7 linked regions of the Homo sapiens genome follow. The protein of the gene in region 3 purifies or fractionates together with the protein of the main gene of each other region. This does not show direct contact. Each region holds a gene or a part of one and is shown on either strand. Other genes may lie near its edges. The genes, in order: AP3S2, GDA, SLC38A6, HM13, EDIL3, RBFOX3 and CYB5A.

What was found.
Region 1: the proteins of SLC38A6 (region 3) and AP3S2 purify together in Homo sapiens (affinity purification with mass spectrometry; one large-scale study listed by BioGRID and IntAct). This does not show direct contact.
Region 2: the proteins of SLC38A6 (region 3) and GDA purify together in Homo sapiens (affinity purification with mass spectrometry; one large-scale study listed by BioGRID and IntAct). This does not show direct contact.
Region 4: the proteins of SLC38A6 (region 3) and HM13 purify together in Homo sapiens (affinity purification with mass spectrometry; one large-scale study listed by BioGRID and IntAct). This does not show direct contact.
Region 5: the proteins of SLC38A6 (region 3) and EDIL3 purify together in Homo sapiens (affinity purification with mass spectrometry; one large-scale study listed by BioGRID and IntAct). This does not show direct contact.
Region 6: the proteins of SLC38A6 (region 3) and RBFOX3 purify together in Homo sapiens (affinity purification with mass spectrometry, with the first as the bait; one large-scale study listed by BioGRID). This does not show direct contact.
Region 7: the proteins of SLC38A6 (region 3) and CYB5A purify together in Homo sapiens (affinity purification with mass spectrometry, with the first as the bait; one large-scale study listed by BioGRID). This does not show direct contact.

Annotation. Positions count from the first base shown.
Region 1 is NC_000015.10:89,890,826-89,895,358, reverse strand, and holds the start of AP3S2 (AP-3 complex subunit sigma-2), read left to right. Parts: upstream 1-1,364; 5' UTR 1,365-1,409; coding exon 1,410-1,478; intron 1,479-4,533. UniProt on the Homo sapiens protein: Part of the AP-3 complex, an adaptor-related complex which is not clathrin-associated. The complex is associated with the Golgi region as well as more peripheral structures.
Region 2 is NC_000009.12:72,208,022-72,212,091, reverse strand, and holds part of GDA (guanine deaminase), read right to left. Parts: intron 4,031-4,070; exon of another isoform or gene 3,921-4,030; intron 3,868-3,920; coding exon of another isoform or gene 3,754-3,867; intron 1,406-3,753; coding exon 1,318-1,405; intron 1-1,317. UniProt on the Homo sapiens protein: Catalyzes the hydrolytic deamination of guanine, producing xanthine and ammonia.
Region 3 is NC_000014.9:61,047,032-61,050,544, reverse strand, and holds part of SLC38A6 (solute carrier family 38 member 6), read right to left. Parts: intron 2,395-3,513; coding exon of another isoform or gene 2,390-2,394; exon of another isoform or gene 2,298-2,389; coding exon of another isoform or gene 2,266-2,297; exon of another isoform or gene 2,248-2,265; intron 1,230-2,247; exon of another isoform or gene 1,142-1,229; intron 557-1,141; coding exon of another isoform or gene 546-556; exon of another isoform or gene 40-545; intron 34-39; coding exon 1-33. UniProt on the Homo sapiens protein: Amino acid transporter with an apparent selectivity for L-glutamine and L-glutamate. May facilitate glutamine uptake in excitatory neurons. The transport mechanism remains to be elucidated.
Region 4 is NC_000020.11:31,559,342-31,563,411, reverse strand, and holds part of HM13 (signal peptide peptidase), read right to left. Parts: intron 3,802-4,070; coding exon 3,765-3,801; intron 1,779-3,764; coding exon 1,676-1,778; intron 1-1,675. UniProt on the Homo sapiens protein: Catalyzes intramembrane proteolysis of signal peptides that have been removed from precursors of secretory and membrane proteins, resulting in the release of the fragment from the ER membrane into the cytoplasm.
Region 5 is NC_000005.10:84,101,730-84,105,799, forward strand, and holds part of EDIL3 (EGF-like repeat and discoidin I-like domain-containing protein 3 isoform 1 precursor), read right to left. Parts: intron 1-4,070. UniProt on the Homo sapiens protein: Promotes adhesion of endothelial cells through interaction with the alpha-v/beta-3 integrin receptor. Inhibits formation of vascular-like structures. May be involved in regulation of vascular morphogenesis of remodeling in embryonic development.
Region 6 is NC_000017.11:79,100,368-79,104,437, forward strand, and holds part of RBFOX3 (RNA binding protein fox-1 homolog 3), read right to left. Parts: intron 3,760-4,070; coding exon 3,706-3,759; intron 2,888-3,705; coding exon 2,795-2,887; intron 1,278-2,794; coding exon 1,217-1,277; intron 1-1,216. UniProt on the Homo sapiens protein: Pre-mRNA alternative splicing regulator. Regulates alternative splicing of RBFOX2 to enhance the production of mRNA species that are targeted for nonsense-mediated decay (NMD).
Region 7 is NC_000018.10:74,256,894-74,260,963, reverse strand, and holds part of CYB5A (cytochrome b5), read left to right. Parts: intron 1-19; coding exon 20-49; intron 50-4,070.

The sequences.
Region 1 (4,533 bases), on a different chromosome or scaffold from region 3:
TTGGTGTATTTGCCTCCAATCTTGAGCAAAGTGGGTTGTCCCTGTACATACTTTGTGTAATCTTTTAGCTTAACAGGTGTCATGAACACTTCCGTATCATAAATCTTTCCCAGCATGATTTTTATTATCTATTTAATATTTCTCATATTCAATGTAGAACAATGCACTTAACCAATTTCTCATTTTTGTAATAATTTTCTTCCCATTTTCCCCTGTAATAACACTGCTGAGATATATATTTTTTTCTTCTTTTTTTTACTGTTCTGAAGATACTCTGGCAGAAATGTATGTTCCTCAGGCTAAATCTTTTCACACATCCACAATCATTTTATCATAAATTCTAGAGCTGGAAACGCTGAGTCTAATGTTTTATATATATATATATATATGTTATATATCTGTCACCCAGGCTGGAGTGCAGTGTGGTGTGATCTCAGCTCACTGCAACCTCCGCCTCCCGGGTTCAAGCCATTCTCCTGCCTCAGTCTCCCAAGTATCTGGGACTACAGGCGCGCGCCACCACAACCGGCTAATTTTTGTAATTTTAGTAGAGGCGGGGTTTCACCTTGTTGGCCAGGCTGGTCTCGAACTGCTGACCTCAAGTGAGCCGCCCGCCTCGGCCTCCCAAAGTGCTGGGATTACAGGCGTGAGCCACCGCGCCCGGACTGTTATATATTTTAAAGGCTTCTGATCCATATCGCCAAACAGTCCTCTGGATCGATTTGCATCTGTATCCGCTGCTCCATCTGCAGTATACGGACATGCTCCACTTCACCCACACTGGGTCATTAAAAGAACAAACAAAAATAAGAACTTGATCGATTTGGGATTTTAAATGGAAATGCACTAAAAATTCCTTAATTCCACCATTCACCGTCTACCATAGAGGAACAGCCCATCTGCACGGAGAGACAGCTACGTAATTCACTGCAGCATTATAATACTGAAAAATTAAAATGAACGAAATGTTCCATAACCGACGAACGGCCGAATGACCGGCGTCTCCACTCCGCGGAACGTTCTGCGAGCGCTAAGGGGATGGCGGGAGTGCATGATTTGGAGCGGGCGGTGAGAAAAGCAAGCTCCCGCCGCCTCTCCGTTTTGGCAACCCGGCTGACGGTCGTTTCGGCTTCTGGGGCCAGCCGTCGGTCTGGGCGAGGGACATAGATCCGGATTCGCATCCTGACTGGCCAACCAACGCTGGCCGAGGTGACCACTCTCCTCGGCATCCGCACCTGCCCTCCAAGGCGTCAGAGAGGCCGGACCCTTGGGTGCTAGGGCTCGTGAGCGCCGGGGCCAAGTTTCCGAGTGCCGCTCTCAGCAGCGCACCAACCGGAAGTGATCGTGTTGTGGCGGAAGGAGGAGCTTTCTGGGAGTAGCCGGTGCTGAGAGAACCGTGGCTGGCAAAGATGATTCAGGCGATTCTGGTTTTCAACAACCATGGGAAGCCACGGCTAGTCCGCTTCTACCAGCGTTTCGTGAGTGCGGCCCGGCTTCACCACGCCCCTTCAGGGCGCCCACTATGTCTTCCCTCCTCTTTGGCCTCTCGGCGCCCGGGGGCACCGCTCTTTGGTCACCTGGGGCTCCTGCACCGAGCATGACCCTCGCCCTACTTAAGCATTTAATCTAGGCGCAGGCTGGTGCCAGGCCTTCTGTCTCCCGCCCTACTGCCCCGCTCTCGCTGACCCTTTTCTTGATCCTGGCATTTCTGTGCCATTTTGTGACATTTTCCCGTGGGTCTCTGGGAACGAGATAGAAGCGACAGTGGGGAGTGTGCCTCGATGAGAACTTGAGTGATTGAAGTCACATTCTGTCATCTTTTTGGTTGTTGACCACAGTTTCATGAGGAAGAAATATTAAGTTTCTGAAAGTTTTTGTTATAGCCAGAACTGGAAAAGTTCTTTTTTTTTTGGAATTATTTTGCTTCAGTGTTGGCTGGGACTTTCCAGAGACTAGATACCCTTCACTCTTAGGGTTGAAGAAAATCAGTTTAAAAGTGGAAAAATGATGAGAAATTATAAATGCTGCCGCATAAGGGCTCAATAAGTGATTACGTAAATTTGAATTTTCCCAACACGTTCCTTTGCAAACACATAAACATCAGTATTTGCTTCCTGTCTTCGAAGATTATATTTCTTCATGGCAGGGTTTCAAAATGTTACATAATTGGGGGACTGGTGGAACTGAAGAGGGGAAAGAGCCAGAAAACGTGTTCAGGCTTCAGCTCCACCTTTTCTACTCTTGCGTCTGTTGACAAGTTAATAAACCCTTTTCAGACTTTTATTGTCTTTTGTCAATTAGAAATGAAAAAATAATTTTACTCCTTCATAAGATTTTTAAAGCTAGATTACATTTTATTAAGTAGATTACATCGAGGTAAAAATATGAGTATTCAGGCCGGGCGCGGTGGCTCACGCCTGTAATCCCAGCACTTTGGGAGGCCGAGGCGGGCGGATCACGAGGTCAGGAGATGGAGACCATCCTGGCTAACACGGTGAAACCCCGTCTCTACTAAAAATACAAAAAATTAGCCAAGCGCGGTGGCGGGCACCTCCAAGTCCCAGCTACTCAGGAGGCTGAGGCAGGAGAATGGCGTGAGCCCGGGAGGCGGAGCTTGCAGTGAGCCAAGATAGCGCCACTGCACTCCAGCCTGGGCGAAAGAGCGAGACTCCATCACACACACACACAAAAAAGTATATATATATATGTATGTATATGAGTATTCAGCGTAACTATTTGTATTTGCATTTGTGTGTATGCAAATTTCCCCCCTAGTTTTTTTCTAACAGGGTTACTGAGATAAAACTAACATGCCATACTGTTTACTTATTTATTTTATGTTATTTACTTATAGAGACGGGGTCTTTCTATGTTGCCCAGGCTGGTCTTGAACTCCTGGGCTCAAGCAATCCACCGGACTCAGCCTCCCAAAGTGCTGGGATTACAGGCATGAGCCACTGTGTCCGGCCCCAGTTTACTTATTTAAAGGGGACAATTCAGTGTTTTTTAGCATGTTCACAGAAGCTGTGTAACCATCACCACAATCAATTTTAGATCATTTTCATCACCCCAAAAAGAAACCTCTGCCCATTAGCAGTCACTCCCTATTTCTCCATGACTCTCCCAGCCCCAGAGAGTTTCTTTCCCTCTAAATTTGCCAGTTCCAGAATGGCAAATGGAATTTGCCTATTCCGTTGCCTATAAATGGAATCATAAATAAGTGGTTTTTTGTGTGTCTGCCATGTTTCATGTAGTATAATGTTTTCAAGATTCATCCATGTTGTAGCATGTATCTGATGTTCTTCATTTCTTTTATTGCTGAATAATATTCCATTATATGGATATGCCATATTTTGATTGTCAATTTATAAGTTGATATTTCTGCTTTTTGGCTCTTCTAATTAATGCTGCTATGAACATTCTTGTGCAAGTTTTTATGTGGACTTATGACTTCATTTCTCTTGGTTATATACCTAGGAGTAGAATTGCTGGATCATATGGTAACTGTGGTGAACATTTTGAGAAACTGCAAACTATTTGACAAATTTTCCAAGTGGCTGCACCATTTTACATTTCCATCAGCAATGTATAATGATTCCAGTTTCTTCACATCCCTGCCATTCGTTATTTATTTATTTATTTTTGGTTAAAGACATTTTAGTGGGTGTAAAGTGGTATCTCACTGTGGCTTTTTTTTTTCCCTCCGAGACTGAATCTCACTCTATCTCCCAGGCTGCAGTGGCGTGATCTCGGTTCACTGTAACCTCTGCCTCCCGGGTTCAAGTGATTCTCCTGCCTCAGTCTCCTGAGTAGCTAGGATTACAGGTGCCCACGACCATGCCTGGCTAATTTTTGTATTTTTAGTAGAGATGGGGTTTCGCTGTGTTGGCCAGGCTGGTCTCGAACTCCTGACCACAAGTAATCTGCCCGTCTTGGCCTCCCAAAGTGCAGGGATTACAGGCGTGAGCCACCGCACCCAGCTCATTGTGGTTTTGATTTCAGTTTCCAAAATGACTAATGATGTTGAGCATCTTTTCATGTGCTTATTGCCCATTCGTGTATCTTTGGATCATAGGATTTTTATAAGACCTCATGAGCTCATGGATGAAAGTACCTTGAAAACTACAGAGTACTAAAAAGATATGAGGGGTTATTAAAATCACTGAGGCATGTAAGCAATTGGTAGTTTACCTTTTTATTGAACTAGAAATTAGGTAGCCTCATCATTTCGTACCACTTCCCCACTGCTGCCACTTCCCCCAGAGTCAGATAAAAGGCTTTAGTTCAAAAGATGTCTTTGTCAGTTTTAAAAAGTGCTGATGCTTAGCATGTTTTGTATTTTGCATATATAGAGTTCGTCTCCTACAGCATCCTGTCATCTGTGAGCTTTGTTTGTTCTTTAAATGGAAATGAGGAAAATAGTGATTAATTTACTCAAATTTGTAGTGACCAATGATTAGCAAGTTTTCATTCAGTCAGTAAATACTGTGAGCCATTCCATACCCATGTGAGTCAAAGTAATTTCCCCACAAT
Region 2 (4,070 bases), on a different chromosome or scaffold from region 3:
ATTCTATTTCAGCAAGAAAGCTGAGGCTATATGGGACAATGGTAATTGTTTTTACAGTGTCTCCATCTCTGTCATAAGAGATTTTTAAAAACCTTTCTGCCTCTCTCCTTCCCCTGTAATTCATTTAGATAACTGGCCATTAGATTAATCTTCCTTAAAATACCACTTTCATCACATCACTCACACCTGGACTCAGAACCTTTTTTGAGTCTTTGGTGCATATTTGAGCTCTTCTACAATGTGAACCCTCCCATCTGCCTACCCTCTTCTCCCACTGCCCCCAGGCGATGAATCCACTCCTCTAGTTAAACTACTGTGGTCCCTGCATCCACTATTGACACTCCTGTTCCCATACCTGTGTCCTTCCCCTATCTAGAAGACAGTTTGTCCTCTCCTCATCTTGTCTTTACTTCAAAGCCCAGTTTAAAGGACCCTTTCATAAAGCCTTCCCAGATGTCGTAGTTCTGGGTTCTCTTTGCCTTCTCTGAAGACTGTAGTATCTATTTTCAGAGTCACCCATTAGGTCAGGTCTTTTGCATAAGCAAACAGTGGCATCAGTGTATCAGCCAACAGTATTTACTGAGCACCTGCTATGTGCCAGGTACTGTGCTGGGTACAAGTTTTGGAATCATCAACCCGAATCCAGAATCAGCTCTTCTTACTAGCTGTGCAACCCTGGGCATGTTACTTATCCTCTCTGAGCGTCAGTCTAACCATCTGTAACATGAGGACATCAGTAACCACTTCAGAAGGCTGTTTGCTGCTGAACTAATTCTTCCAGAGTGCTTTGCACAATGCTAGACGTCTAGTAACAGCACCATAGTTGTTACTAAGGTTAGTGATCAATGGTGTAGGTATTCTGTCTGGCTTCTCAAGGGCAGAGACTATTTTTTATCTCATTGCGTTTCCAGCATCTAGCACAGTGCCCTGACTCTAGCCAATAGCCACCATGTATCTGCTGATATAAGAAACTATTACCACAACTAGAATTAGTAAAGTTTCCCTAAAAAGCCCTAAATTAATACACAAAATTCAGACTCATATATATCATTCTGTAACCAAAAATTGTAAGTAAATAATCAGAGTACTTAGAAAATAGAAAACACTCTATGATACAGTTTTCTATTTTCTAAGTACTTTAGAAAATTTCCTAAGGGCCACAGTGACATATAGACACGTAATTACTTGCAAAAAATGTAATGCTCATGTTCTAGCAATTAAAAGGCAGGTCTGCCCAAAAGTACATATAAGTTGTTTGCCACGATGGTCTGGCTGTCTTTGCTTGAGGTGCCCATAAATCATGCTTCATTTGCTCACCTGTAATGTCGGCAAGGAGCAGAGATGAGTCAGTGTGAATTGTTGCAAAGTAACAAGCTGTGGTTGTTCCATTCTTTAGTGTTCTCCTCTAAAAATAAATCACAAAAACCGCGAATCACGTGTGCTCAGAAAAGTCACATGGTACATCCAGAGGAAAACAGAATTTTAGTTTTTAATTTTAAAATGTTTTTATTTAAAGGTATGCCATCTTGATGTAGAGTACAGTTAGGTAAATGGCAAAAGGTATTTATATTCCAAAAGTTAGCTGGAGGAGAAGCTGATACTTCTGATTTTTTCTCGATTCACACAGTTCTGTGCTTCAGAATTCATTAAAATGTGATACTAATGAATTCCTTCTTTCTTAGGATTGTTTAAGGATATCCAAATTTTATTGCATCTGGGAGTACATAAATAAGTTTTTCTTCTACTACAGAATAAAAATATTCAGCCAGACTTTAGCTCAACCTGGAAGGTTAATCACATATATCTATCTCCTTTCCTTCGCAAACTACAACAAACATGACAGTAAAGGAGTACAAACGTTATTAACCCACAAGAAGAACATGAGAGGAGAGACATGAGCAGAGAAAACATTTCAATATCTTCTTGGAAGACAAAAAACATGGACGAGAACCTGGAAGCAACTTGGAAAGAAGGAGAGAAGTGTGTGGGTTTTAGCAGGGGACTGGCTGGAAGTCTATGCAGGTATGATTAAACCCTGGCAGGAACCTTGTTGAAATCAGCCAACCACCCTTAACTTCTTCCTTATAAGAGAGATTTACTCTTTATAGAACCTGGATAGTATTTAGAGGGTACAAGCTCCAAAAGAGAAGGTAAAGCAGAGGTTTAAGTGAAAATCTGGCTGACCTCAAGGGCACTCAGTCATTTTCCCCAGAATACCACGTGTACTACTCCCACAACTCCTGGCAGGGGACTAAACGATTATTTTCTAGAGAAAATGAATGGCTCTAAAAGAAAGATGTCTTCACAGTGACGTTTGGGACCCAAATTCACTGCCTTCACTACTCATCCTATAATGAAGTTACCATCAACAAGTGATACCTCCACCCAGAAATTCCAGTCAGCACCTTATAGCATCACAGTATGAATGTATGTCCAGGGTTTGATAGGCATTGGAGGGAATCTATTATCAAAAAGATAAGGAGGGGGAGAAAGAATCTGGAAAAAATCTTAGAGGAAACATAATCTATAAGGTCAGAAAAAAGCTCAGTTAAAAAAAACAACTATGACTCACATCCTCAAAGAAATAAAACACACTATTGCACCCACAAAACAAGAACAGAATGCTATGAAAATCAGAATGCAGGAGCTCTCCAAAAGTAAAAATATTATAAATGAAATGTGGAAGCCAGTAGGAGGGTTGTAGGATAAATTACAAGAGAATTGCTCAGGAAAAGGAAAAGATGAAAATCAAAGGTGAGAACATAAGAAAATTAGGCTCAATCTAGGCAATCCAACATTTAGAATAAGAAATCTAAATTTTTTTAAATAAATGGAAGGGACAAAAATATGAAAAATAATATTCATCTCCAAAATTAAAATCCTCATAGAATTGTCAGCACAGGGAATAAAAAGAGAACCCAAAGTAAGGCATATAATTGTGAGATATTAAGTTCGTAAGTACAGAAAAGATGCTAAAAACTCCAGGAAAAAAAAAAAAACTGGTCACAGATAAATGACAGGACTCACAACGACATTGGATTTCTCACTAACAATGCTGGAAGCAGAACAATGCCTTCAAATTCAACTCATATATATCATTCTGTAACCAAAAATCCTAAGTAAATAATTAAAGTACTTAGAAAATAGAAAACGCTCTATTATATAGGTTTCTATTTTCTAAGTACTTTAGAAAATTTTCTAAGGGCCACAGTGATACACAGACAATTAAGTACTTGCAAAAAATGCAATGCTCATGTTCTAGCAATTAAAAAGGAGGTCTTCCCACAAGTACATATAAGTTGTTTGTCACAACAGGAGTTATTTTTAACATATAATTTTATACCTTGGTAAATTATCAATCAAGTGTGAAGGTAGCATAGAAATATGATTAAGTACCGAAGGACTTGAAAATTTTACTCTCCATGAACTCTTTCTTAGGAAGCTTTTAGAAACTGTCTTTTAGTAAAACACAAGAGTAATCCAAAGTAATTCCTGGATCCAGGGAGTGGGCATTAAACGCAGGAAAGAGGCAAAGAGAATGCCAAGATTACAGTAGTGCTACAGAGAATGCTGACCAGAAACAAGAGAATGGGAGGAGGTGAGAAGATCTTCAAGAAAGAAAATGGAACGGATATTGCCTGACCTGTCTGAGCACTTGGAAAAAGGACTAGTGGATTGAATACTTTGGGGCATATCTTTAGCAGAAGCTTTTAAATGCAGAGGAAAACCCTCCAGACAGTGGCTCTTGCTTACGTTTTGCCTGTTATTAGCTACGTGACCTTGAGAAGGTTGCTTACATTCCATGTTTCCTCCTTTGTGAAAAAACAGGGTTTTCTTGACTAGTACAGACATCAGAAGCTCAAGTGTCTGCAGGATTGAAATAGTTTGGAGTTAGGATAATAGAAATGAACATGCCGTACCTTAGACAGTAGCCTCTAATTAGATCCAGTGTGTTCCATTTTTTGTTGTTGTTGTTATTTTGGGTTTTGTTTTTTGAGACAGGGTCTTGCTCTGGAGTGCAGAGGTGCCATCACACATCACAGCTCACTGTAACCTTGAATTCTAGGGAT
Region 3 (3,513 bases):
TATAACCTTTTAGTAATTCTGACTCCACTTTGTCTGTAAATAAAATAATAAGGATCACATTATAAAGTACTAAGGTATCAATAGTAACAAAATTGTTTTCCTTTGCACTAATGGATGATAACAGATTTTAGATTCCCATTACCAAATCCTGGCCTTTCCCCTAGCCTATGAAACACAGAGACATTAATTAAATATCTTCTTGAAACCTAACACCCTTTTTCCTTTAATAAAAACCAGAATAAGCAGAACCTCTCAAATTATGACAATGAATATGTATACTAAATTATCTCTTTGGAACTTTTCCATAATCTAAGGGTTTGAACATTTGTGCTGTTTGTTTATAAAGTGCTTTCACACGTGTTGTTGAATTTAGTCCCCATGATAACAATATTAATACGCAGGTAGGTCCAAAAGTGTTAAATGATTTGCCTAAGATCACATAACACAAAGGGGCAGTGCCATACACCTACTTCTTTTTGGTGCTAGAGACAGCATCTTTTCCTCAATACCACAACGTTTTCTAGAATCTCAGAGCTTGGTGCATGTTACGTTTCATCTGTGGATTCATGTTTTATGAAAAAAAGAGAAGTGTTAGGGAAATGTCTTACTTAGTAGGCCAGTGTGTGGTGGTCAGCAATAGGATTTATACATGCCGACCAAGCTTTGCTCCAGTGTTCTTGCATTCTCACAATGTCTCCCTAACCTCAACCCAGACAAGGGGAAAGAAGACTGAGGGTGCTCAGAAACACTGGATATCAGTGTTTTGTGGGAAAATATCAGTTTGTACTTAAAATAGAATGGTGCCTTTTAATTTGAGAGTGTTTCAGAAAGGATACTTTGAGGGAAACCAAAAACAAAAGGAAACATACCTCTGTTCTCAGGGAACTTTAAGAAGAGATGAGATGAATACACATAGCTATGATAGAAAGTGTGATATACACATGTAAGTGGCCAGAGAGTTCTAAACAAGAGCTATGGAGATTCTAAACTGTGATGACATAGAACATGTTCAAACCCCACCAGTAACTAGCAACTTACACTGAGTCTCTCAGTTCCTACATCTTTAAAATGGGGATGGCCATATACTAAACTATAGGGTTACTGAGAACATTACATGAGTCAATGAATGTGTGCTGATGTTCAAAGATGTGGGGGAAGAGATTCTCTAGAAGCAAGGAGCAGCACAAACAAAGCAAAGGGAATGTGCATCTGAGAAAATAAGTGGTCTAGTAAGTACTACAGTGGATGAAACAGTGTGTGGGTGATAGGGCTGGAAATGCATTTCAGACCTAGTAATACAGTTCTGCATGAGATGTGGCCTCAACCTGGTAGGCCACAGAAATGCAATAATGACTTACAAAGAACAGTGTATTATGATCTGAACTAAAGCAGGAGTACGGATTGGAAGAAAAAGAGACCCCAAACAGGCATAACAGCTACTGTTACAATCACTGAGAGGTAAAGAGAATCTGAACTAGACTAGTGATAATGGAAACAGGAGAGAAATGAATTGTCCAAAGTATCAAAAACATACTTTACACAATGTGGGATTTGGACTAAGTAGGAGACTAAGAAGAGCCAGGAAATCTGGATTCTATTTCCAAATCTGTGAGATACTTGTGAGTCTTTGGAGAAATATGGCAAACTATTTTATTTCCATTTTCTGAATCATAAAATGAGCTATTAACACTTCTTGCTTAACAACCTCATAGACTTTTTAAATGGCCTGGTTATTATGCAACATTTGGGCACTGGCCTGGCTCACCAGAGGAACCCTTTTCTCTTCCTTTCACAGCTGTAATCAGAGCAAGTATCATTAATCTAGGTACATACCTATAAGTCCCTTTAATCTGACAAATTTAGAAATTAAACTTTAGGAGCTCTGGATAAAAGGATCCAAAGCAGCTCCTGAATCTTGAAGAACTAGATTTATTACAAATTCAAAATAGATGTCACATGTCCACTTTCTACTTTCCCAGGATGAAAACACTTCTTCTGAGCCAGTCACTCTGTGTTCTTAACTGAGCCATAACATATGTGAGGGATAGAGTGGTGCATGCTTCCCTGGATTCAGACAAATCTCTACAAATCTCAGAAAGGGCCTAATGGTGATCTCTGCAAGTTATATATGCCATTGAAGTCAGGAGGCTGTCCTGTTTAATACACATTGTCAAACAGGGTATTAAGTTTACAAAGATTATCACAAAGTAGCAGAAATAACACTGGATTAGTATTCAGGAAACCTGCCTTTAATTCTGTGACAGGTCACTTCACCTCTCTGGGCTTTAGTTGTTCATCTGTAAAATGAATTGGAAGCCTTAAGTTGAGGCTAGCCCTTATAAGATCTCAGGTTCAACCAGCAATTTCTTCCTATGACACAAAGCTCCTGTTATCCTGGTAGAAAGATATGATCAAAGGTTTTTCTTGGTTATGATTCACAATCCAAGAGCAAATCAATATCTGCCTCTTCTGTCTTTGGAGAAGAACTTACTACTTTTGTATCATTTATTCTATTTATGTATGTATGTATGTATGTATGTATGTATGTATGTATGTATGTATGTATGTATCTATCTATCTATCTATCTAATCTATCATCTATTCATCCACCCATCTATCTGCCTACCCACCTACCTATTAATCAATCATATACCTACCTACCATGTGATTTTCTTAGATGTGTATTTCTCTATTATATAAAATTTGCATACTCTGAAGAATTTGCATTAGTGGAGAAGAGATTAAATCAGAGACAACATAATGGTTTTACTTGATATTAGACAAATCCCTGTCTAGGAAACATGCCATCTACATGATGAAAACCTTTAGCCTTTGTGTTCAAGCAGCAATGTTAGATAGATAGATTATACATAGATACATACATAGATAGATGCCTAGAGCTTAAGTGAGTCATATTTTTCTAAAAGATCACCTTAACAAAAACTTGGAATAAAGGAAATCTGGCTTCTATAGCACAATTTCTGAGTAGACAACACAGTAATAAAGGCATTGGCTTTGGAGAGAGACAAAACTAGATTCAAATCCCAATTCCACTATTAACTGGCTTCAAGTATCTGGTCTAATTACTCAACCTAAATGAACCTACACTGAGCTTGCAGAATTGTTATAAGGATTAAGTTAGGGAGTATATATAAAATACCTGACACTGTCTTAAATGTTAGCTCAATAAATGTATTAGCTTCCATCCTTCCTCCACATCCCTTTCAATCTAATACAGCTACAATTTAATACAGTTTCTAAGCACCTAATGGTGATTCATCTAACAATTTCTCAGCCAGCCTGGATATTGGCAAGCCATCTGAGGTTTCTTCCAGATAGTTCTATTTATCCATAGGGAGAAGAAGGAGGTCAGTTTTTTTGGACTTTTTCTTATTGCTGAAGATCCCTAAATATAATAGTGTTTGTGCCAGGTAGCAATTTTAATAAAAGAAATATATAGCTATTCCACTATACAAAATATTTTTGGATCCCAAGAGACCCTGTTACAGTATC
Region 4 (4,070 bases), on a different chromosome or scaffold from region 3:
GCGGAGCTCCAATGAGCTGAGATCACACCACTGCACAAAGGCAGAGGTGACCCTTACCTAGACCAATGCTAGCACTGGGACTACCTGTGTGTTGGAGAGCAGGGGACCCCATGGGACAGGGTCCCCTCATGTCCTGGATCCCCTTTCCAAGGATTTTCAGAGAGGTACCCACTTGGATGACTGGGGAGAAGGGCTGGGCTGCTGCTGGGGAGTAACACAGGCCTTGGGGCAGGGTTCAGGAGTTCATTAGTCTGGAGTCCAGATCGCCACCCAGGGCCCAGCCTGATGTAGTGTTCGCGTTCTCTCAGCGCTGCAGTTTTCCGATAAAGGAGAGGACTCCTGTGTGCCAGAGCTCTGAATGGGAGCCTCTTCTCAGTCCAGCCAGGCAGAGGGTGAGGCTGCCACCTTATGGCCACTGGGGGAATTGGCTCTGGGCTTGGACTCCAATAAGGGGCCGGGAGCTGCAGAGACCTCCAAAAGGTCTCTTAACTAGTCCTCCAAACCAGGTCCAGTCACTCTCTGTGACCCTTGCCATACGCATGTTACTCTCACCTTACACGCCATTGAAGCCCTTGAGCAGAAGTGAGAGGCAGTTCCACAATGGTTGTTCTTGGTTTTTCTAATTATGGGCTAGGGGCCTTTTGACCTTCTATAAAGTAATACTGTACTAGGACTAAATGAGTTATTAGCAAAAGAGTTTAGCACAGTGCCTGGCACAGAGTGATTAAAAAAACCCCAGCTTTTGTGATTAATTCAAAGATGGCTCGTCTGTATTTGGGCCCTGGGGAAGGGGAAAGGGGACAGAAGCAGCAAGCCCAGAGTTCCATGGTTACTGGGTGGTGCTGGGATTCACAACAGGGCTCCCTTAGCCCCTGTTCAATGCTGCGTTTCCCATGGCCAGGGCTTGAGAGCCTGGGTGTGGTTTCCATGCTGACCCAGGTTTGAATCCTGGCTTTACCACATACTTGCAGTGTGTCACCTGAACTCCAGTTTCCCCACCTGTTCACAAGGATCCTCATGAGTGCAGAGCCTGACATGTGGAAGTGCTTAACAAACAGGAGCTCTTATTATTTCCAGTAGAAAGTAGGGCAATCCTGTCTGCTCACTTTCCCCTGAATCTTCCCCTCTCCAGGCCACACTGAGGGCTCCCAGTCTTTGTGCTATGTTGCTTCATTCTGTGGCAGCTCAGTACTCCATCCTCATCTTGGTGGGAGAAGGAGGCAGAGCCTGGTCTACTAGGGAGTAGGGGGAGGGACGCCCCAATACCCAACACCCACTCCAATCCTGTTCTTCTCTGCCTGCTTCCCACTACCAAGGCTGAGAAGCCAAATCCTCTTTCCTGGACTCTCCTGTAGCCAGGGTGGCTTTAGGACCCCAGTCTGGCCCATGAGATGCTGAAAGGGTTCTGGGAAAGTTCCTGCCTTCCTGATGAAGGCAGCAGGCATGGCTGTTACGCTTTTCCCTCCTTCTTGCCTCTAACGTGCCCATGCTGCCTAGAGCAGTGGCAGCCATCTTGCAACCACAAATGGAAGGCCAAGAGAATCACAGACATGACTGCTCCAACACCAGTGGGGAGTGCCTATCTCTGGACTGCTTGCATTTACAAATAAATCCCTCTGTAAGTCCCTCTATTTGCAGTGAGGCATTCCTGACACTCTGATACCGTCCTGCCCACCTGAGCATGCTTGAAGATGTGCATGATGAAGATGGTAAGGCCCAGGCCGAAGATGTAGGCTGCAAAGCTGGTGTAGAAGTAGGTGTGGGTATTCTTCTTCAAGCTGCAGGGAAGGTGTGAAGAAAGAGGAGGAGGGTTAGATATAGGGACTGAACTAGTAATACCCCTTCTGAGGGAGCTGGGGAAGACCCTAGAGGTTGTGGGGGGGTGACTGAGCTCTGGGCTGGGAGTCTGGAGGTGGGTGTGCACGCTGATACTGCCCCCAGCTATGTGTCTCTGGACAAGTTGCTTTCCTTCTCTTAGCCTCAGTTTACTCATCTGCAAAATGGGAAAATGAGCTCATCTCCTTGGTAGTTATGAATATCAAATGCTGCAACTTATAACAGTGGCTGTAAGACTTTAGTCAGCATAAAAATCATCTGGAAAGCTTGTGAAAAAATGCAGGATTCTAGGTCCCACCCCCAGGGAGTCTGATCTAATAGCTCTAGAGCAGGGCCCAGGAATCTGCATTTTGAAAAAAACATCTGAGGTGAATCTCATACCGTTGGATCATGCTTTGAGAAACACAGATACAGAAACTGCAAAGATAAGTTACTACTTTTAAGTGCAGTGGACGTAATAGTTCAATAGCCTATTTGTGGTACTAACTAGATGCTGGCTGCATGAATAAATGCCAGTGGCTTCCTGGAGGTGATTCATCCAAGATCAGCTTCAGAACAGATGAATCATATACAGCCCGGCATTGCCATTACGTGACTTCCCTCTCCAATGCCAGCTCCGTAACCTCTGCATGTCCCCAGCACCTGGGATGTGCCCAGCCAGTACTATGGACTCAATTAACATTTGTGGAATGAATGAGTGCTTCTGACCCCCTTCTCTCCTTGTCCTGGGTGCTTCTAAGCCTTCGGCTGCAAGTACCTTGAGAACTCACCTATCTTGAGAACTGGGATACAAGTGACTCCCTTTGGGAATGTTGCACTGATTCTGGAAATCAGCTGAGGAGCTGCTTATGCTGTGAGCCCAGGCTAAAAAATGAGACTCTGTCTCTGAGGGTGCTGGCAGTTGAATCTGTCTCCAGCAAATAGCCTGGGGGCTTCTTATGGGTTTCACTTTGTATTACCTCTGAACAGCCAGGAGTAGAGACGGCTGGCACAGACATCCCTCTACTTACAGACTGGCCAGGTCTCTTCCAAAGGTGACTGTGAGCCCATATGCTCCTAAGGTTTGAAGTGGCACTACACAAATAACCCAGGTGTATGTGAGTGGGAAAAACCTAAGTTTCACATGGAAACTGGATTTCAATGATGCTGGTAGTAAGTTTCTCATTACCACTGTCACTGTTATTACTGCTTTTGCAACTATCAGGCATGAGGAAATCAAGAGAAGTTCACAAACCACCTCAAAGTTAAGTGCAACATTGCCAGCCCTCACAGGGATGACGGGGCATAAAATGATGGAGCTGTTGCTGGCGCCCCCTGCTGACGGCAAGTCCCATTGCATAGGTGCATTAACTTGGATAAGACCTTTCTTGTGTTTTAAACGCTGACCTAAGTTGCCCACCTTCTCCCCCTCGTGCTCACTGTCTACAACAGACTGAAAAATGTCTGAGTAAAGAGAGGGCAGGGAACAGCTAGAGCAGCTGAGACATGGTGACCTGACGCTAGGCTGATAAAAGATGATGATGATGACTGCAACCAGGATTCAACCAAGAGCGACTGAGGTCAGTGTGTGCTCAGCACTCTCTCCAGATTTTCATGGTAGGAACTCTTGTTATTAACTCAAGATGAGAAACCAGAGGCTCAGGAAGGTCAGGCCACTTGTCAAGGTCACACAGTGAGAAAGCACTGTGAGTACCACCAGGCCCTTGTGGGTTTAAATCTCTTGGCCTATGATTCTTAAAACAATTTTTTGACCACAGGCTCTTCAAATACTTAGAACTTCAAGATGCAAAATGCAGATAAAATCAGAATTGCTCTGGCTGCTGTGGGGGTGGAGGGTCTGGTCTCCTGAGGTACCTTCTCTGGGCTCCTGAAGGCCACTGGAGAATCCCTGGAGAAGCCCATGCTGGGGCAGGCCCTCACTCACTCACCTGATGTCAAAGCGCAGCAGCAAGGCAATGAAGATCCCTGTGGGAGAAAGCTGGGGTTAGAGAGTGGCAGGGAAGCAGCAGGGCAGTGAACTAACAGGAGACTGGGTCCTGGTCCCCAACCTGGTGTTCCATCTTGGAGCAATCATTGGAGACCAAGGGTGTGGCCAATACTCTCAAGTGACAGCAGAAAGTCCCATTTCTCTACCTAGAACAATGAGAGGGGCCCAGGATTTTGCTTTGGCCTGGGACTACAATGACCCAGCACCTCACCGCATCATACTATGTCACACCGTGTCTGCCCAAATG
Region 5 (4,070 bases), on a different chromosome or scaffold from region 3:
CTACCAGATATACAAAGAAGAGCTGGTAGCATTTCTACTAACACTACTCCAAACAATCGAGGAAGAGGGACTCCTTCCTAACTCATTCTACAAGGCTAACATCATCCTGATACCAAAACCAGGCAGAGACAAAACAAAAACAGAAAACTTCAGGACAATATTTTGATGAATATCAATTCAAAAATCCTCAACAAAATACAAGCAAATTGAATCCAATAGCACAACTAAAAGCTTATCCACCATGATCAAGCAGGCTTTATCCCCAGGATGCAAGGTAGGTTCAACATATGTAAATCAATAAGAGTGAATAATCACATAAACATAACTAAAGACAAAAACCACATGATCATCTCAATAGATTCAGAAAAGCCTTCCAATAAAATTTAACACCTCTCATATTAAAAACTCTCAATAAACTTGGTACTGAAAGAACATACCTCAAAATTATGAATCACCTATGATAAACCCACAGCCAACATCATACTAAATGAGCAAAAGATGGAAGCATTCCTCTTGAAAACAGAAATGAGACAAGGATGCCCTTTCTCATCACTCCTATTCAACATAGTATTGGAAGTCCTGGCCAGGGCAATCAGGCAAGAGAAAAAAGTAAAAGCCATCCAAAACGGGCAGAGAGGAAGCCAAAGTATCCCTGTTTGCAGAGGACATGATTCCATATCTAGAAAACCCCACAGTCTAGGCCCGAAGGATCTAGGAAACCCCACAGTCTAGGCCCGAATGATCCTTAAGCTGATAAACACCTTCAGCAAAGTCTCAAGGTAAAAAATCAACATACAAAAATTACTGGCATTCCTATATAGCAACCACAGTCAAGCCAAGTGCCAAATCAGAAATGCCATCCCACCTACAATTGCTAAAACAAAACAAAACAAAACAAAAAAAAAACGAAAAAACCCTCCTAGGAATACAGCTTATCAGGGAAATAAACAATCTCTACAATGGGAACTAGAAAACACTGGTCCAAGAAATCAGAGATAACACAAACAAATGGAAAAACCATTCCATGCTTGTGGATACGAAGAATCAAAATCATTACAATGGCCATACTGCCCAAAGCAATTTATAGATTTCAATGCTAATCCTATCAAACTCCCAATGACATTATTCACAGAATTAGAAAATACTATCTTAAAATAGCCAAGACAATCCTGAAGACAACAACAAAAATAAAACCCCCCAAAAGCTAGAAGTATCACATTACCTGACTTCAAACTATACTATAGGGCTACAGTAACCAAAAGTACTGTTTTGATACTGATACAAAAACAGACATATATTCCAATGGAACAGAATTGAGAGACCAGAAATAAGGTTGCACACCTACAACCATCTGATCCTCCACAAAGCTGACAAAAACAAGCTATGGGGAAAGAACTCCCTAATCAATAAATGATGCTGGGATAGTGGTTAGCCATAGGCAGAAGATTGAAACTGGACCCTTTCCTTACACTATATACACAAATCAACTCAAGATGGATTAAAGACTTAAATGTAAAATCCAAAGCTATAAAATCCCTGAAAGACAACCTAGGCAATACCATTCTGGACAGAGGAAATGGCAAATATTTCATGACAAAGAGACGGAAAACAATTGCAACAAAAGCAAAAAATGACAAATGGGATCTAATTAAACTAAAGAGCTTCTGCACAGAAAAAGGAACTATCAACACAGTGAACAGACAACCTACCGAATGGAAGAAAACTTTTTCAAACTATGCATCTGATAAAGGTCTAATATTCAGCATCTATAAGAAACTTAAATTTTCAAGAAAAAAAACAAACAACTTCATTAAAAAGTGGGCAAAGGACATAAACAGACAATTTTCAAAAGAAGACATACATGCAGCCAACAATCATAGGAAAAAAACCCTCAAAATCAGTTATCATTAGAGAAATGCAAATGAAACCACAATTAGATACCATCTTACAACAGTCAGAATGGCTATTACTAAAAAGTAAAATAATAATAGATGCTGGCAAGGTTGAGGAGAAAAGGGAATGGTTATACACTGTTGGTGGGAGTGTAAATTATTTCAACGATTGTGGAAAGCAGTGTGAAGATTCCGCAAAGAACTAAAAACAGAACTAACATTCAGCCCAGCCACAGCATAACTGGGTATATACCCAAAGGAATATAAATTGTTCTATGATAAAGGCACATGCACGCCTATGTTCACTGTAGCACCATTCACAATAACAAAGACATGGAATCAACCGAAATGCCAATCAATTGTAGACTGGGTAAAGAAAATCTGATACATAGACACCATGGAATACTATGCAGCTGCAAAAGAGTCAGATCATGTCTTTTGCAGGAACATGAATGAAGCTGGAGCAAACTAATTATCCTTAGCAAACTAATGTGGGAACAGGAAACCAAATACTACATGTTTTCCCTTAGCACCACTTACAGTGGGTGCTAAATGATGGGAACACACGGACACATAGAATGAAATAACAGATAGTGGGACTTACCTGAGGGTGAAGGATGGGAGGAGGGAAAGGACTAGGAAATATAACTAATGGATACTAGGCTTAATACCAGAGTAACAAAATAATCTGTACAACAAAAACCCCATGACATGAAGTATACCTATATAACAAACCTGCACATGTACCCCTGAACCTAAAATAAAAGTTTCAAAAAAAAAAAGAAAATTGGTAAAGTTTTGTAAAAAATAACATTAAAAATATATTATTAAAGAACACAATTATAAAATGAATACATTGAATATAATTCCTAAAAATTTATTGAATAACAATAATTTTTAGTTTTTCACCCATTATATTTGAGGTTCTCACTCTAATATAAAACCTTTCATGTTTACTTTAGCTGTTTTTCTCTGAGTTCATTATCATCTTCAGACCAAAAGCAAATTATCATCATCCCACTGACCTTAAAAGTAAAATAAGTTTTAACTATTGTTCTTAAGAGAATAAATCTAAATTTTTCTCAGTGTTGATCACTGTCCTGTTCGATTAAGGTTATTTCTGCCTACAGCCACTGGGATAAAGGGAATTAAAACTTCACACAATACTTTGAAAGGAAGAATGATGCATAGTGTTAAGTAGGCAATACTGGGACAAAGTAAAGTGAACAATCGGATATGAAACATTAATAAGGTGTTTCTCAGAGTAAACACTGGAAAAGCATGCTACTTATGGTTTATAGAAAGATGGCAATCATTGAAGCTCACGAACATAATTTGCCAAACAGAAACCCTGATGTAAACTGGTGATATCATCTCTCAACTGTTCTGAATTTTGGCTATGAATATTAATGTCTAAAGTTTTATCATGACCACAGTCCTACAAATGCATTTCAACTAGAGTGATTAAAAATGTCTCTGGAATGATTATTCATTAGTAAATATGATATAATTATTTTCTATTATTCTGTGCATATTTTAAACCTTAATCGATCCTTCACAAGTGTGATAAAACTGTATAGATGTGCCATTTCCACTATCTGGAGTTCATTTTGCACATGTTGCTATAGATTGAAAAAGTCAAGTGTAACTTAAGAAGCAATTTTAACAACTTCATGTAAATATAAATTCATAATACAAAACAAGAACTTCAGGCAACCTTATTAGAGCTCTATAGATAAAAGAAATGTTTATGAGACATATAAGAATGCCTAAGAAATCTGAACAAAGAAAGTATCTGAAGGAGATTTTGGCCCAGTTTTTCAAGTATGGAAGTCTTGCCTCTTAGCCATAAATCAATTTTCGTTTATACCAAATGCCTGTAAACTAGTTCTTGTATAGTACACCTAATTATGTCACATCAGGGATTTCCATGTTTCTTTGACTTAGAATACGTAGTAAACAGATAGAACAGATCAATCACCTAAACTAATCAAAACTCTGCAATATCTCCCTACTCTACTGAAATAAGGCTAATACCTTTTAGTATGACTCCCGAAGCACAGCAAACTCGTACAATGAATTTGAACACATCCCTCCAGCAACCTTTACTCTAGTCATGATTTTCTACAATATTCCCCAGATTGTCATGTAGCATCTTTAATCAGGCTGTTCCCTGGA
Region 6 (4,070 bases), on a different chromosome or scaffold from region 3:
GGGAACACTCCCAAATTTTTAAAAAGAATTTGAGATGTGTAAGTCCTCAGAAAAGCAGGATATGAGGCCATGAGAATCAAGTCTAACTTGGGCCAGGCCAGAGGCCCGGCCCCACCCCAGCATCGGACACCAGGAGAAGAGCTCGGGGGAGAGGTGGCGGATCGGGCGGTCCTGTCCAGGCTTCCATGCTGGTTGTCACCTGACTCCACGTATGGCCGATCACATGGGGGGCCATGAGAGGCTGGGGGTGACACCGTCTGAAAGTCCACGGCAACAGGGAGATCCATCCCGTCTAGGGGCAGCGCTGAGGCTTCTAAGGGGTCCGAGTGGGAAGCTGCTCCCTGGCAGGAATGAGCGGAGGCCCCCAACGTACGCCTGCTCTGCTCAAAGCAGGCCCCTTGCCGGATGGAGTTAAGACTCGCAGTGGCCACCAGTGGTCCCCCTGCTTCTCCAGAGCCAGCACTTAGCGTCGGCAGATCCATCTCCAAGGAAGACCGGCCACCTCCGTTTGCAGTGGGGTGCACACACACAAGATTCCTCAGTCTCCCCTTGCTGTGGACAGCAGGGCTCAGCCTGGGGCCTCAGGGCCACCCATGTCAAAAAGCCCCAGGAAGGCAGTTACTGTAATCACATCCTCCGAAATCTGAGCACCTCCCCCCGGGCCCTTCCTCATGGTGCTTAAAGGTGTCATTTGTCATCGAACAGCTCTGGGGGATGGTGTCACTATTCCTGTTTTGCAGATGAAGAGACTGGAACTCAGAGAGGTCTAGAAGCTCATCCAAGGCCCCCCGTGCCCTCACTGCCCTCCCTGAGCCTGCTTACACTGGGAATCGGTGCAGCAGGTCTCAGCACAGAAGCCTTCAAACTCTGGCCCTGGGGGAAAGTCAGTCCTAATCCAGGAAGGCACAGCTATCCCCCTGGATCAGAAGCCTGCACGTGTGGCCTCTGGGGGCCAGGCACGCCTGGGAAAGTGAGACTCCAGCTATGGCTGACTGTATGGGGCCATGAGAGGGGTGAGTGGCCCCCAGCTCTCCTCCCGCCTCTTCTGCCCCACCCGCTTCTGACCGGGAGCAGAGCGGCAGCCCCAGGGCTGGGACACTGGGGACGGAGGCTGCCTAGGATCCAGGAAGGTCAGCCTGCAGCAGCCTCAGCTCCCCCAGGGCCTCTGTCCCAGCCAGTGACCCCAGCAGCCTTGTGGGGGGACCCAGCCCCTTACCGTTGGTGTAGGGGTTCCCCGTCTTCTTGTTGGTCATCACTCGGGCCGTGGCATTATTGACCTGTTCAAAGAGGGAAGGAGAGAGAGGAAGAGGGAGGATTAGCCTCCTGGAAGACCCACTGGCCACTCCTCCCCGCCCTGCTCCGTTAGCCCCCGGCACCCCCCGCCCCAGCCTCCTCTCTCCACCATGCTGCCTGCCCTCCGGGAGCCTTGGCCCCCACTGCTCCCAGCACGGGCTAAAGCCCCGCCTGGCCCAGGACCCCAGACCCAGGCCTGCTGGCCTGTATCCTTCATGTGGCTGTTCCCATAAACCCAGCCCCAGGCTCCCAGGCACCCCAGGACAGCTGGAGCAGCTCCCTGGTGGACTCTCCACAGAGTGCTCTCTGACCAGAACCAGCTAAGAGGCTGGACTCCAGGATGCCCCCTCCTCCCTGAGGCTGCCAAGGCCCACCTAGGCATGGGTACCAAGATGGCCACATACCCCTCCTGGATGATGCCCCCCTCCCCCGAGGCCAGAGTCCTCAATGCTGCAGAGTACAGAGGTCTCTGATGGGGCCCGTGTGCCCCTGGAGGACGAGGCCGACAGGGAGGGGGGCTCTGGGCACGAAGTCACCTATTTTCCACACATATGCCTGGGTGAGGCTGTCCAGGGGCAGCCTGGGATGGAGAAGACGAGGCATGTGTGGGAGGGAGTCGAGAATAGCAGGGGTGATGGGTCCCAGGAAGGGGTCTGGGCTGTTCTGCCTCCCCTGCGTCCTCCATTGAGCCCCGAGGGCGTGGGGCTGCAGCCTGGCCAAGCCAGTGCCTTCAGAAGTCTGGAAACCTCCTCTCAGGCCCTTCACTGCCTGCCTGAGGGCTCTGTCATGGTGGCTGGCCCCAGCCCTCCTCCAGCCACCCTTTGGCTGCCCTGCCTGTTGGGGTACCCAGCTCCAGACACCCAGGCCGCAGCAAGGGAACACAGCCCACTGGCACTCTGGACCCCTGGGGAGCAGGGAAGGAGGGGACAGAGCGGGATGGGTGTCAGGGAGGGACCCAGGGCCCCTCTCCCTGCTCCTCCTTGGGGCCTGGTCTCTTCCTCTGCCCTGGCCATTGCCACTGCTGCCTCTGCTTCTACCCAAACAAGGGGTGGAGTGGGGCCAAGGTGGGGGCAAACTGCAGGGCCCAGACTGGGCCATGTGGGGACAGGTTGGGGACAGCCGCTGCTCCATGGTGAGCAGGGTCTGGGGATTAATGGCTCCTTGGCCGGGTGGGCTGGCCATGGTCCTTGAAGCTGCCAAGCCCCAAATACAGGATTTCTGGGGCTCCTCCAGTGTCTGGTTGGGGACAGCGCCTCTCCTAGGAAAAGGAGGGAAGAGGCAGGGGAGAGGGGACCTCGGGTGAGCCTGAAGGGGTGACAGGTGATAGGGCTCAGCCGGCAGCTGAGCACCCTGGCCTTAGTGCGACCCTTCCTCCCACCCCAGGGAACCCTGGCCAGGCTCTCTGAAGGGTGCGGCAGTGGCAGGGCTGGTTGGTTGGGGGAGCTGGGGGGCAGGTGGGCGATCTTGGGGCATCCCTGCCGCAGCACACTTATCTGAGCACCTCAATTTTCCGTCCCTCTACGATCGTCCCATTCAGCTTCTCCCGGGCTCGGTCAGCATCTGAGCTAGTTTCAAAAGTTACAAACCCAAAACCCTGTGAGCAGAGGAGAGGGAAGGACAGGCACGGAGAGGAGGACACAGGGCGAGAAAGAGGAGGAAGACGAGGAAGAAGAGGAGTGGGAGGGGGGCAGGGGAGTGGGGAGAGAGAGAGAAGGGGTTGAGTCAGGTGAGTTGAGGCAGAGACGCAGGCAGCCCAGAGGTCTGTCCTAGGGCCACCGGCAGGATGCCAGGAGGGGTATGGGCCCCAGGGGGGCAGCTGCTGACCCAGCCTGAGCCCAGCCTGAGCTGATCACCCGGCATCTCCAAAGGGACAGGCCAAAGCCACATAAGAGACGCCATACCTGACCACAGGCCAGGCCTGCCCCCTGAACCCCACCTTGGGGTAGGGGGCCCAGGCTGGGCTTCAGGACCTGCAGGGGCAGCCCACCCATCTCCACCCTCGGAGCCCAGGGTAGAGGGTCGTGCCTTCCTGGAAGGGGAGTAGGGCTTGTCTCCGCCGGACACCCTCCCCAGCCTGCCCTCTCTGTAGCCCCTCCCTCAAGCTTCAAGGCCAGTGGTCCCCTGGGGTAAGTGTTCAGTGGGGGTGGGGCCCGGACCTGGGGCCCAGGGCTCTGGGGTGCAGGCAAGAGGTCCTGGTGGCTCAGAAAGAAAAAGCGGCAGCGGCAGCAACAACACAGACAGCTGGGGTGGGGGCGGGGCGGGTGGGGGCGGAAGAGCGGGGAATACAAGCACCCGTGTCGCTCAGGGGTCCTCGGGCGCGAAGCTCTCCAGGAAGGAAACGCACATTTCACACGTTAGCCTGGCGGGACCTACAGCCGGCGCTGTAAGGCGGCAGCTCCGTGCGGCACCCACCTTGGAGCCCCGCTCGTTAAAAATGATCTCCACGTCTAAAATTTTTCCGAATTGCTGCAGAGACAGAGACAAAGAGGGAGTGGGGCAGACAGGAAAGTGCGGGTTAAGACTGCTGGCCCAGCTGCCCGCTCCACTCCTGAGACGCTCATGCCTGTGCTCTGCCCTCGGCCCCCAGCTTGGGAAAGGAGACCGGGGACCCCCTCCCACCCCTGGCCATGGAGCAGCTGGGACTTGGCCACTTGGAGAAGGCGATGGTGGGGATAGGGTGCCCAAGGCATCACCAAGAGGGTCCTTGGTGTGGTGTGGGGACAGGGACAGCTCTCCCAGCCTCTCCTGGAGGCCCGTGTCTCCCTTCTGCCTTGGGG
Region 7 (4,070 bases), on a different chromosome or scaffold from region 3:
CCTTATCTTTTCATTGCAGGATGACAGACCAAAGTTAAACAAGCCTCCGGTAAGTGTGACCATCTCAAGTATCTCTGGATGTTCTCGTTGTATTTAATACTTGTCAAACTGAAGGCAGAGGGTTTTTATTTACCTGACTGATGCCAGCACAGGTCTTTCTAGATAAATGAATATGTAACCTACTGGCTCAGCAAGTATTTTTTATTTACGGAAACCTGTCAGTATGATTTGTTAGGATGGCGTGTGTGTAATTTTTTTAAGGCTGTCAGTAAACTACTTTTTTCATCATAATTATCAATATATACCATTTGAAGAGCTACTTTTTATGGTAGCACGTGCTTCTGATCTAAAAGATTTGACACAAGCCTTATTTTCAGAGAACTTAAAATCTGAATGGATAGTGGTTTTATTACTTAAATCTTTAAGGGTGTGTCTCATGTCTTCTTCATCTTTAAGTCTCTTGGGCATAGTAGGTGTTCAATAAATACTTGTCAGATGAATTTAATGAAATTAAATAATACCCTTTTGACTTACTTTTCCTTGGGAAAGGAAAATAACTCTGGCAATACTAGTTTTATGTTCTGATTCACTAGCCTTTCTCTCTGAACTGACCATCTCACTTATATTTGAAGATAAATGTAGGGTGAGAATGGAAGAGCACAGCCTAAGTTCCTGAAAAGTACAAGTAGGCAAAATAGTTTCTAGTGTCTAATTAAAGGACTACAGGGGAAAGTTTTGCTTAAATCAAATGACAAAAAAGAAAGTATAATTTTTCGTTTTGGTGTAAATTCTTGGTTTCATTAGAGAAAGTGCAACAGCAAGACCCCACTGAGCTTGTGTCGAGAACTGGTGAGCTGATTTTTTGAGCTGTTGCTGCCAAGACATCATCTTTAATCTACAAAAGGATCAAAGCAGTTAATCCAATAATATAAGCATAAAGGCCACATTTACCTCAACATCCCTGATAGTACAATAAAAGTCTTGTGTAATACTATTTAGTACAAAGCAATTTTTTTTATATTCTCTCCTTATTCAAGAAAGACTTAAGTTCAATGTGAATGATATGAGTACTTCCAGGAGATAAAAAGTTGACTTCAGAATTTCAATGGCCTCTGTGACAATTGCTTAGAATCCTTGCTGTGAGTTCATTTGACTTTAGCATCTTTTTTGAGGCTACTTTTTGGACAGCTGAAATTCTGTGTTGCATAAAGTTTTTCCTTTTTCTCTGAAGTCTCTTAAGGGAAGAATATATATTTTTTTTATCATGTGTTCAGCATGTTAATCATTTTGGTATAAGTCATTTAGCTATAGCAAAACAAAGGTTTAAGATTCATTAGATGAACTTAGATGACCGCAGGGCCAGCCGTCTCGCTAACCATAAAGACTACAAGCAGAAAACACTTGTAGGTGTAAGATTGTACATGTGTCTCCTGCCATAACTACTTTCAGTTTAAAGGACAAAGACTTTCTTCCTTATTTGCTTTTAGAACACGTGTATTACAGCCTATACTCTGTTGGATTAATTGCCCATTACTATTTATTGTTCTTATTTTCTATTTTAAAGTGGCAGTTACTTTGATACTGAGAATATTTTGGGAACAGAGCAAGTTTATGTGGTAAATTCTGGGACTTTAGCTTTTAGTATCAAAGAAAGCTTTCCTGACAACATTGAGGCACAGCCCTTTGTGCGTTAAGACATGGCTTACTTCATTCCAGCATTAGCAGTTGATACTTGATCAGCTTGTTAGATGTAGAAGGTCTCACTGAAGTTTGAGAATCACACTAACTTTTTAAAGTAGATTTTTGTTTGTTTGTTTTTGAGACGGAATTTTGCTCTTGTCACCCAGGCTGGAGTGCAATGGCGTGATCTCGGCTCACTGCAACATCCACCTGCTGGGTTCAAGCAATTCTCCTGCCTCAGCCTCCCGAGTAGCTGGGATTACAGGTGCCTGCCACCATGCCCAGCTAATTTTTGTATTTTTAGTAGAGATGGGGTTTCACCATTGTTGGCCAGGCTTGTCTTGAACTCCTGACCTCAGGCATTCGCCTGCTTCAGCCTCCCAAAATGCCGAGATTACAGGTGTGAGCCACGGCACCCAGCCTAAAGTAGATGTTTTTACTCTCTTCAGAGATTTTACAGATTAACTAACTTCTGAGTATTTTTTAAACAACTCTTCTTTATTGTGACTTTGCTTCAGTGAGAGCAGAACCGGAAGAATGTGGGACAAGAACTTGCTGGCCTTTTTGAGAGGCCATAAGCAGATGAAATGAAAGGAAATACATGAGCATTTTTCTGGATGTATCTTTCTTGTGCTTTTGGTTTAGTGGAAGTAAAGAGTGTCCTTAGGGATTTCTTTTGTCATGTGTCTGTATAACCATCGGCCGATCTCCAGGTTGAAGAATGTACACTGTGGTCTAAAGTTTTGAGATGTTGCCTGCTTAAAATATCTAGTTGAATAGTGAAATAAAATGCAGTAAAGATTATTAGCTTGAACCTGCCCTAAGGAAAGCATAGTGTTAAGTTACCAAATTAAGATATTTGTAGACTTAGAAATCATGCATTTTAATCTAACATAAATGTTTCTATCACATTTGCTTACATAGAGAATATTAGTCGTAGCAATACCCCTTCTTGGTTATAGTTTTGAAAGCATTCTTGTAGAAGTTATTTGGTCCTCACAGTGTCTCCATGTTAGACCTGCCAAGGGAGGTAGGTACATTGCAGCTGGGAAGTGTTAAGCACCCGGCTCACAGACGTGCTCCAGAACCATCTAGCACCCATCTCAGGCTGGTCAGTTGCAGTCCCTTAAGCTTCTCCTCTAGGTTCTGGGCTTGCCGTGTTAGACATCACTCTGTCAGTATTTTAAGGGAGATAGGCTTCCCACTAAAGTTTACGTTAGATGAACTTATAAATGAGATGACTCTGATTCACAAAAGCTTGTTGGGCTTTGCATGCTTTTCATAATTTATGGAGCTTACTGTAATTTACACTGATTCACATGACTTTTATAAGTCATTATGCATGACATACTTATTTTACTTTTTTGAGACGGGGTCTCACTCTGTTGCCCAGGCTGCAATGCAGCGGCATGGATCTGGACTCACTGCACCATCCACCTCCCGGGGTCAAGCAATCCTCCCACCTCAGCCTCCCGAGTAGCTGGACCATAGGCACACAGCACTGTGCCCAGCTAATTTTTGTATTTTTCTGTAGAGACAGGGTTTCACCATGTTGCCCAGACTGGTCTCGAACTGCTGGACTCAAGCAACCCGCCAATCTCGGCCTCCCAAAGTGCTGGGATTACAGGCCTGAGCCACCATGCCCAGACTTTGACACACTGATTTAATTGTTAACCTCTTTTTACTGAAGTTGAACCTCGAAGTCATGGAGTGAACAGGTGGCAGAGCCAATCATAAAAACCATATTCTTTCTCCTTGTTCATTGCTGACATTCTTTGATAGTCACGTCCCTAAACCCAAGTGAGGCCCTCAGAGCACTGACCACTAAAGACCAATTACTTTTCCATCAAAGTGCAAAGTGGTAATTCAAACTTCCTTTAACTGTCAAGCATCCTGGGCTACAGAGCCAAGAAGATAATCAACAATCAAAAGGTGATACGATTATTTCAAGTTCCCCTCTTTAGAGTTCATGGCTGTTGCTGATGATGCTGGTGCCAGAGTAGTGTTTTAACCTTAGCGCTCTCCCATGGTAACCACAAAGGCAGCAGGAGGGCAGGTGGGAGGTTCCAGAGTTGTCAGCACGTTGGTGAAATGCCTGCCCTCATTTTAACGACGCCGTGGATGTTTGTGTTTGCCTTCCGTTGGCTGTTTCAAACTTAACTTTCTAGTTTGACAATCATATTTTACCTTCAGTGATTCTTTTGTTTCAGAACTGATTGTGTCCTCTAATAGCTAACTAATATTTTTGTATATTTTGATTATTTCTAGTAATTTTTGTTAATTTTATTCATATATACACAATTTGGAAAATCCTCTTGCTGTAGTTATGAATACTTTTTATAGATGCTAAGATTTTAAAATTGCTGGAATAGATAATAAATTTGCAATTT